2 separate regions of the Homo sapiens genome follow, and region 2 is reported to be linked to region 1. The links are microRNA targets in miRTarBase. Many come from high-throughput screens and were not tested one by one. Region 1 holds a microRNA gene; the other region holds the end of a gene's coding sequence. Distances are between the middles of the regions.

Region 1 (5,074 bases):
ACGCACTCTTCTATTTCTGATTTAAAAATAGGTTCAGCTGCCTAACAATTACACATACTCTATTTTGCACGCGCACATTACTTAAGGAGACATTTAGAGGGTAGATAGCTTTTATTCCTATGAGTTATCTTGAAATCATCTTCTTAACTATCTTTTTTTCCCCAAAGGGGCCATATTTTGAAGGATTTGTGATGAGACTTTTGGTCTGTGAAGCCCAAGACACAATCTCCAACATGCACAGGAAATCCAGTATCAAATTTCTAACATGTCTTCAGAGACAGGCCCAGGGCTGGCTTGAGCGTGTCAGAGAGGTGTGCACTGCGTACTACCCATCATACATGGCCACACATGCCTGTGGCTGTGAGAAATACTGGTGGTGACAAAGACAATGAGATGCCAGAGAAAAAGATCAGTGGGGTTTGCAAAAGTGATTAAGATGTCGTCCTAGGTATAATTAAAGACTTAATAAGGTTGAAGGAAAGAGAGGACATTGCACATACCGAGGCCCCTGAGAGATCTGCCTGGCAACCCAGAAAGGGACATATGGGGGAAAACGCCTTAGTGTAACCAGGTCAGAATTTTCATTCTGGGCAGAACTGGAATTTGAATAATAATACTGAGTCATATAGCGCATACAGCTATGACATTTCATTTATTTCTCTATATAATGCAATAAAGTAGATGGATTAACCGTGACGTTTACAGATGGAGCAGGGGAGAATGAAGAGGCGTCAGTTTGGGCATCAGGCTGGATCTTCACACTCTGACCTCACTCTGCTCTATCCTGCCCAGTGTTGCTTCACCTGATATCAGGGGTGCAAGGCAACCAGATCTGACACCAGTTTCAGTTTAGATCCTGCCTTTACCTGGGTGTGACCCGGGTCCATCTCTTCAGCTCGGCCTCTGCTTTCTCTTCATAAACTTTTGGGGTTAGTCCTCGGATGATCTCTAAAACATGGCCCAGGTGCTCCTTGCCAGTAGAGTGTAGCCGGATTTGGAGGGACTGGACACTCAGTGTGAACAAGACGAAGGCCTCAGGAGGCAGTAAAAGCTGACAAGAGGAGAGAAAATGAAGCGCCTACGGGTGCATACTGGACTAGCGGGCGAAAGGCCATGACTCCTTAGTTTGGAGAAAGAACTGGGGCCGAGATTGGGGAAGTTTCCCAGTGCAATTAAAAAAAAAAAAAAAAAGAACTAGAAGAATTACCCAGGTCTGGCTTCTTTCGTGTAGCCTGGGGCTGAGTCGCAGGCTGAGAAATCCAGTCTGGCCAGTAGGGGGCTCCACCAAGCGCAGTCTCAGAATGCCCAAGAGCTCCACCGTCGCCCGGGGTCTCCACCAAGCGCAGTCTCAGAATGCCCAAGAGCCCCACCGTCGCCCGGGGTCTCCAAGAGGAGTGGGTCGTGGTGGGCGTTGAAGGGCCGTAAAAGACGAGCAGCCCGCGTCCGCGTCCGTCCTCCCGGGTCTCCAGTCCGCAGGCGGCCGCCGCCTCGGCCCCGCCCTCCCACCTCCATTCCCGGCCCCGCGGACCCGAACGGTCCCTCTCGCAACCGATCTGCTGGCTGGGGCGCTGGGGATGCGAATTCCTAGAAGCCTTAAGAGGCTGCCCAGCGTTGGAAGTTCGTATCCCCAAGAATGCTGGAGGTTCCGGCTCACACACCCCCTCCGGGCACAGAGTCAGCTGGGGGGTGCTGGGAGGGAGAACGCCCCGCTCCTCACCCCCCATCCCCGTGCACCCTGGAGCCCAGCTCCATACGTTCGGCCACCCCAGGCGGACTCGGGGTGGCCGGGTAGCGGGTGGTGGCAGGAGGGGACCGGGTAACGGCAGGCCCGAGAGGAGGTCGCTGGGCCGGGCCGGAGGCGCACAGGGGCTGCGTGGCTACCTCGGCGGCACCCGCCCCACCTCCGCCGGCTAAGCCCGGAGGGGGACGGTGAGTCAGATCTCGGGCACCCGCGGGTCGGGCGGGGAGGGGGAGGCAGGTCAGGAAATGACATCAGAGGCCTGTGCTCAGGGAGTGGGGGTCTGAGCCGGGCTGGGGCGGCGGGGGCGGCAGTGAGTGGGGTGGGGGCGAGCGGACCTCGGCGGAGCCTCCGGCCTGAGGCAGGATCAGGGCCCCTTCCTGGGGGAGTTTCCTGCCTGGTCCGCCCTTCCCCGCTCTCCCCGCCCCCTCTCCGGGCCGCTCCTTGTATGGTCTGGGCGCCGCTCTCTCCCCGCCCCCTCTCTTCTCCCTCCCTCCTCCTTCCGTGTGTCCCTCCCCGCCCGGCTGGAGGCTGCTCCGGACCGGGACGCAGAGTCTGCGGACCCGGCGCCGAGGCGGCCACCCGAGACGCGGCGCGCACGCTCCGGCCTGCGGTGAGGCGCGGGGAGCGGCAGGGCGGCCCCACGGGGAGGGGGCGCGGGGCGCCGGGAGGGGGCGAGTGGGGGTCACCAAGGGGAGCTGGGACCGCCTGGGGCTCCTGAGCCCGGCTCCGCGCTGCGTAACCCGGCGACCCACCCCAGCAGCCCGGCCCGGCCATGGCGGCCCCCCGCCCGTCTCCCGCGATCTCCGTTTCGGTCTCGGCTCCGGCTTTTTACGCCCCGCAGAAGAAGTTCGGCCCTGTGGTGGCCCCAAAGCCCAAAGTGAATCCCTTCCGGCCCGGGGACAGCGAGCCTCCCCCGGCACCCGGGGCCCAGCGCGCACAGATGGGCCGGGTGGGCGAGATTCCCCCGCCGCCCCCGGAAGGTATGCGGCGGGGCTTGGGGAATGTACCCCGGCAGGAGCCGGGGTGGGGGGCAGTCGTTTCGGGAATTTGGGGATGTCTGGAAAGGTTGTTGCCGAGGGGGCTGGGCGCAGCCACCCTGTCCCGAGCAGATGTTCTTACCTCATCGTGGAGCTCGTGGCTGGGAGCCAGGGCTCCTGGGACCGTTCCAAGTCCCCCGCCTGGGAGTGGGAGTCGGGAATGTGGGGCACGAATCTTCCCCTCCGGGTCCGTTTTCCGAAGTGTAACGGGAGCTGCACCACTCCTCGGCAGTGCGCCCGGCCTTTCCTGACCTGGTACTCCCAGGGCGCCCTGCGCCCCTCCTTTGCTTCCCCACACGCTCTGGGACCCCTGAGAGAGTTCTTGGGTTAGGGGTTAGAGCGGTTAACTGAGGGGAGCTTGGGTGAGGGGTAGAGGGACCCCGGCCGACGTCTTTCTCCTTCCTACCCCAGACTTTCCCCTGCCTCCACCTCCCCTTGCTGGGGATGGCGACGATGCAGAGGGTGCTCTGGGAGGTGCCTTCCCGCCGCCCCCTCCCCCGATCGAGGAATCATTTCCCCCTGCGCCTCTGGAGGAGGAGATCTTCCCTTCCCCGCCGCCTCCTCCGGAGGAGGAGGGAGGGCCTGAGGCCCCCATACCGCCCCCACCACAGGTACGGAGGCCTGGGAGGGGCGGCTGCACTGGACACCCCCAAGGAGAGGAGAAGAGGGCCCTTTCTTCTTACCTCCCCTGCACCTCTGCCTTGGGGGTGGGGGGATAGAGGCATGGAATAGGTGCTCTGACCTCTGACCCTCTAGCCCAGGGAGAAGGTGAGCAGTATTGATTTGGAGATCGACTCTCTGTCCTCACTGCTGGATGACATGACCAAGAATGATCCTTTCAAAGCCCGGGTAAGGGACCGGAGAGTAGGAAAAGCAGGGCTCAGGGCCAGAGAGACTGGGCATAGAACTAAGGAGGATGGTGTCCTCCTGACTGCATCTCTCTTCCCTCTCCCACCCCTTGCAGGTGTCATCTGGATATGTGCCCCCACCAGTGGCCACTCCATTCAGTTCCAAGTCCAGTACCAAGCCTGCAGCCGGGGGCACAGCACCCCTGCCTCCTTGGAAGTCCCCTTCCAGCTCCCAGCCTCTGCCCCAGGTTCCGGCTCCGGCTCAGAGCCAGACACAGTTCCATGTTCAGCCCCAGCCCCAGCCCAAGCCTCAGGTCCAACTCCATGTCCAGTCCCAGACCCAGCCTGTGTCTTTGGCTAACACCCAGCCCCGAGGGCCCCCAGCCTCATCTCCGGCTCCAGCCCCTAAGTTTTCTCCAGTGACTCCTAAGTTTACTCCTGTGGCTTCCAAGTTCAGTCCTGGAGCCCCAGGTGGATCTGGGTCACAACCAAATCAAAAATTGGGGCACCCCGAAGCTCTTTCTGCTGGCACAGGCTCCCCTCAACCTCCCAGCTTCACCTATGCCCAGCAGAGGGAGAAGCCCCGAGTGCAGGAGAAGCAGCACCCCGTGCCCCCACCGGCTCAGAACCAAAACCAGGTGAGGGATGGTGATAGGACAAGGCTTGGTACCAGGGCACTGGGGCGGGGCTGGGTCAGGAGCCAGAGCATAAGCATAAGGTGATTGGAGAGTCAGGGTGGACACGGGGGTTGCGGGGTGGCGGGATAGGAATTTTCATCCTCTGGGGTTAGCCTGGTGGAACAATGGTAGGAAAATGCTCCTCTGGAGGAGAGGCCTGGCTGGGTGTGGGGCTGGGTGGGGCCTGGCTGGGACGGCGCAGAGAGCATGGGCTCTGAATTAGGAGGATCTGGTGGACCTTTCCTTGTGCCTTTACCCCAGAAAGTTAAAGGGAGGGATGAGATCACCAGTTCCACCTTGGTTTTTCCCATTCTTGGGTCTTGAGTTAATCTCCCTGCTCCTCTGAGCACTCTTTCTGCCTGAGGGCTTGGAGGTAAGAGACAGCCCCAGTAAACACTGGTTGAGCCAGCATCCACCACGTGCCAGGCACTGTGCTCTGTGCCCAGGAGGGTAGGACATGGGAGGGAAGAGATCTCTGCAAGAAGCTCAGCCTTCAGGTGTCAGATGGACCTGGAATGGAATTCTTGGCTCAGCTTCTCCCAAGTCCTTAGACTGGGCAAGTTAGGTGAACCCTGAGCCTCAGTTTCTCAATCTTTAACATTCTCTACTCCATACAGTGGTTGTGAAGATTGGGTGAGCTAATACCTAGAGAGTGTTGGGTTCTGTATCTAGTACAGGAATGCTCAAAATAGAAAAGCTGTAATTACAAAATGGTTCTTGCCTTCTAGTTCAGGAAATAAGATCGTCCAATTTCTGGTGACGAAGATGACC
Region 2 (5,060 bases), 120 Mb from region 1:
AGAAAAAAAGATAGGGGGAGGAAATAATTGTGACATTTTTCTGACCGTAATAGATTTTTGTTGTTTTTTTTGTTGTTGTTGTTGTTTGTAGGCTTTCCAGTCAATAACAGCAGCAGTGATAATGCTCAGAACTTTAGTTTTAAAACAAACTCTGGATTTGCTGCTGCCTCTTCTGGAAGCCCTGCTGGTTTTGGGAGTTCCCCAGCATTTGGAGCTGCAGCCTCTACCAGTTCAGGTATCTCTACTTCTGCTCCAGCTTTTGGATTTGGGAAGCCTGAAGTCACATCGGCTGCATCATTTTCATTCAAAAGCCCTGCAGCTTCCAGTTTTGGATCACCTGGATTTTCAGGACTTCCAGCTTCCTTGGCAACAGGTCCTGTCAGAGCTCCAGTGGCCCCAGCCTTTGGAGGTGGCAGTTCTGTGGCTGGTTTTGGTAGTCCGGGCTCACATTCTCACACTGCTTTTTCTAAGCCATCCAGTGACACTTTTGGAAATAGCAGCATATCCACTTCTCTGTCAGCCTCAAGCAGCATCATTGCAACAGATAATGTGTTATTCACACCCAGAGATAAACTAACAGTAGAAGAACTGGAACAATTTCAATCCAAGAAATTTACTCTGGGAAAAATTCCATTAAAGCCTCCACCTCTGGAACTTCTAAATGTTTAAAAGGGCAATTTTAAATACAAAAAAGAATGATGTTTAAAATTGCTTTGAGTGATTCATACAGAGATGTATATATGCATACATGTATATATTCATAAGGAATATAAGCTTCCATCAATAGTGATTTTAAATTTGATTTTTTTCTTAACTCTAAATATTTAAGTAAAAAGTAACAAAAACTCTGCAAGCAAGGGAATTTTTTTGTACTGTAATTTTGAATGGAACTGAAAAATTATGCACGAATAAAGTACTTTTCTCATGCCATACCACTTTACTGTCTCACAATTTAAAGTTTTAAACTTTTTTTTTTAGGAAGGAGATAATTTCTGTAATTATTAGGGGGAACATGCTCAAATATTTAACCTACTTTTAGAGTAAACATTAGTAGCATGACTTCATGTTCAGGATTCTCTCAAAGAGATAAATCAGTTTGTAAAGAGTGACAAGCTTTTAGTTTTAGAACCATAGGGGCATTTCCCCCCCGATAAGTTTGGTTCCCTCTCAACTTTGGCGGTCTCGTGGACCACCATTTGAGTTTTCTTCAACAATCTTAGGCTGCTTTTTATTTTGGCCTCACTTTTATAGAATTCTATTTATTCATCACATTAGTCTGTCAAATGGATGAGTTGTAAGAGAAACAAATTGTGATCTCATGTGAATAAATAATGTGTGTAGTGGGGTCAGGATTCACCAGTTTCTGTTTCTAGATCTTCTCAGGCATGGCCAGGTACAGTAGCTCACACCTGTAATCCCAGCACTTTGGGAGGCTGAAGCGGGCAGATCACTTGAGGTCAGGAGAGTTCGAGACCAGCCTGGCCAACATGGTGAAACCCTATCTCTACTAAAAATACAAAAAATAAGCTGGGTGTGGTGGCGGGCACCTGTAATCCCAGCTACTCAGGTGGCTGAGGCAGGAGAATCACTTGAACCCGGGAGGCAGAGGTTGCAGTGAGCTGAGATCACACCACTGCCCTCCAGCCTGGGTGACAGAGCGATACTCCATCCCCTTTCCTGCCCTCCCCCAACAAAAAAAGAATTATTGTGCATGTTTGGATCTCCCTGTGTCCTCAGATTGAGGGAGTAAGATTTATATTTTACATATGGATGATCCAAGAAACTAAATGCCTGTCACGAGTTGAAGCAGGTATATCAGACTTCTGCGCTTTCTCAGTCCTCAAAAATTGCATAGCTAGCACTGCCAGAGCAGTTACTAACACGGTTCTGGCATTCAGCTGATTTTTCTAAGTGAATATAAAACCTTACATAATAAAAGATATGCCCTCCAAATGATTTTAACGTATGCAAAGGATTCAGTCCTCAAAAGACCTGCATTCTCCATTACACTTTTGTTGTTGTTCTTGTTGTTGTTGTTGTTATTGTTGTTGAGACGGAGTCTCACTCTGTCGCCCAGGCTGGAGTGCAGTGGCGCGATCTCGGCTCACTGCAAGCTCCGCCTCCTGGGTTCACGCCATTCTCCTGCCTCAGCCTCCTGAGTAGCTGGGACCACAGGCGCCCACCACCACGCCCGGCTAATTTTTTTGTATTTTTAGTAGAGACGGGGTTTCACCATGTTAGCCAGGATGGTCTTGATCTCCTGACCTCATGATCCGCTTGCCTCAGCCTCCCAGATTTCTGGGATTACAGGCATGAGCCACCATGCCTGGCTCCATTACACTTTTTGAGGAGCTGCATGACTCATCTGACAGTTCTGGAACCCCAGTGTTTGGTACAGAATCTATACTATAACCAGGGGATATATATTTGAAACCATGCTGGTGTAGAGATGGTAAATAGAGCATAAGTTCCTTTAGAAGGAGCAAGATTAAAACAAAAAGAGCATAAATTCCTTCTTTGGTCTCAAGCTCTACAGACTTTCCAGTATTCGAACTAATACTTGAATCCTAGAATTTTCCTGCCCCGCCCCCCCCCCCCCCGGGATGACCCCTACACTACCTCTAAATTGCATACAAGCTCCCTGAGGTCTCAGTTGAACTTCCCAGTGTCCTGGAAGATCTCAGAAAATCCTAGTTAAAAGCCCATTGTTTCCAACTGTGCCTGATTATAGGAATCACCTGGGGTGTTAAATAATATATCCAGATAACATATCCAAATTACAGGAGCTGCCCATTGGGATGGGCTTGGGAATATGTCAACAGGTATTCCTTGTGGTCCTTCAGGCAAGTTTGGGAAACAGGACTATCCAGCTGGATTTAGGCTACTTAGTAATACCTGATTTGGGAGTTTTAATTGTTGAAGTCTGTTTTCTGTGCTCCCATATAGACAAAAATGTGGGAATTTAACAGGATCCGAAGTTTTTTAAAAAGCACAAATAAGTGCTACAGGCTACTAAAAAATTTTGAGAAACTAAAGCAGAGAGGCCCACAAAGTAGAAACTAGCACCATGCATACATACTGGTGTCAGAAGTCAAGAAAACTGGTAACTCCCAGACCTAGGCTAAGGGGCATCGCGGCTTCAGAAAATCAGAAACAGGTAACAATGAGGTGGCAGCAGCTGGGTATAAAGGTAGGTTGAGTGTTCAGACCCCAAGAGGGAGGTAGTAGAAGGGAAAAGGCACCCACAACAAAAGGATGTGCCAGCATCTTCTGGATGGTATCTCCTAATCTCATATCCAGTGAGACTAGCAGAGCTGGACTAACTAAGAGGCATACCCTAAAATAGGCAAAAATAGCCTGCCTTCACAGCTGCTGTAATAGCTGTCCTTTTCACCTAAGGTCTAGAGCAAGTGACAGAATTGTAGATAAGGTATAGCAAATAAACTGATTTAACTCGATTGATTATCTGATCACAGATTAGAAGGGGAGAATGGTAACAGCTGAGAGCTGATTAAAAGGGGAGAGAAAGTGAGCTGATATTAAAACTAAAAGGTATAAAATGATTTAGCTATGCAGTATTATTCATGAGTAAAATAATTCAACTTGAAGCATCAAACAATGATTTAATTGTGGTAGATACATACATTGGAATACTAAACAGCCTTTCTAAATGACTTAATAGAGAATAACTTGGAAATGTTTTCATTCTGCAATCAGTGGACGAGAGTTTGCTATAAAAAGAGCATGTACAGTGTGATCCAATTTGGAGAGAAAGAATATATTAATGGGGGGGAGGCTAAAACTTAACAATAATAGCTCAAATTTTAGTGAGTTTTTGCTATGTGCCAGACAATGTCCTAAGCATTCTGTATCTAGTATATTAGCAAATTGCCTCATCACAACCATATAACCTAGGTGCTATTATAACAATTCTCATTTTCAAAATGAGAAGAGCAAGATTTGGAGACATTAAATGACCTATCCAAAGTCACTCAACTTCCAAGTAGTTGAGTTGTAATTCAAACACTGAATTTAAAGGGGCCATGCTTTAAACCACTCTGCTATACCACATACTAGATTATGAGGACACTTTGTCTTTTTTTTTTGTATTTTCTACAATAGCATTACCTTTATATGTTTCCCCCATTTTTCCTCATATGAGTACAATTTGCAGTCCCACCCCAAACTTACTGAATCAGTCTGTATTTTAACAAGACCCACCAAATGATTTGTATGCACATGAACATGTCAGAAACTATTTCATGTGTAAAGGAGATGTACAAAAATGTACACAGTATTGTTTATATAGCAAAACAGAAAGCACCAGAAGTCCATCCACGGGATAATGGATAAACTTTGGCATAATGGAATATAACTGTATAATGACTCAAGTTACTTGTATAAACAACCACCAAAAAGGGGGAAGGTACAGAATAGTATGTATGATATACCATTTAAAGTACAAAAGAGCAAAACAATACTGTAGTATTATGTATGGATTCATAAACACAGGAATAATAGCATGTGGATAATAAGCACTGATATGAGTTGGCTGTGTCCCCACCCAAAATCTCATCTTGAATTGTAATAATCCCCATGTGTCAAGGGCAGGACCACGTGGAGACAATTGAATCATGGAGCTGGTTTCCCTCATTCTGTTCCCACGATAGTGAGTTCTCATGAGATCTGATGGTTTAGGGGCTTCCCCCTTTCCTGGGCTCTTATTCTCTCTGCTGCCGCCATGTGAAGAAGGATGTGTTTGCGTCTCCTTCTGCCATGATTGTTAAGTTTTCTGAGGCCTCCCCAGCCATGCAAAACTGTGAGTCAATTAAACCTCTTTTCTTTATAAATCACCCAGTCTTTATTAGCAGTGTGAGAATGGACTAATACAAGCACCAAATTCAGAACAGTGTTTACCTAGGGAAAGAAAAAAAGAAATGGGATCTGAAAGGCACAGACAGGGAGCTTTATATGTGACTTAAAAAAAAAAAAAAGCTTAATATGAGAAGCATAAAATTTGACAGAGCTGGGCATGATGGCACAAACCTGTAGTCCCAGCT

What was found. The annotated mature microRNA hsa-miR-6892-3p reads UCCCUCUCCCACCCCUUGCAG and lies in region 1 at 3,722-3,742, shown strand. An mRNA with a match to its seed (bases 2 to 7 or 8) in the 3' UTR can be bound and repressed. Matches are read on the target gene's strand: a 7mer-m8 pairs with bases 2 to 8, a 7mer-A1 pairs with bases 2 to 7 and ends in A, and an 8mer does both.
Region 2: the mRNA of NUP42 is a reported target of hsa-miR-6892-3p. The part of its 3' UTR that is shown has no 7-base or 8-base seed match.

Annotation. Positions count from the first base shown.
Region 1 is chr7:143,379,059-143,384,132 of GRCh38, forward strand. It overlaps MIR6892 (microRNA 6892), which reads left to right and starts at 3,628; the gene lies at 3,628-3,742. ZYX (zyxin) reads left to right here and starts at 2,287. Exons shown (of 10, transcript NM_003461.5): 1 at 2,287-2,351; 2 at 2,499-2,721; 3 at 3,190-3,389; 4 at 3,535-3,627; 5 at 3,743-4,264. The coding sequence starts at 2,514. It overlaps FAM131B-AS2 (FAM131B antisense RNA 2), which reads right to left and starts at 1,967. Exons shown (of 2, transcript NR_161353.1): 1 at 1,208-1,967; 2 at 97-1,051. It also overlaps a transcript of FAM131B not described here. RefSeq lists enhancers at 847-926, 1,083-1,983, 1,107-1,196 and silencers at 1,697-2,726, 2,757-2,806.
Region 2 is chr7:23,200,077-23,205,136 of GRCh38, forward strand. It overlaps NUP42 (nucleoporin 42), which reads left to right. Exons shown (of 7, transcript NM_007342.3): 7 at 92-930. The coding sequence ends at 669. Among named protein-coding and RNA genes, the nearest start is that of NUP42, 21 kb to the left of the region's middle.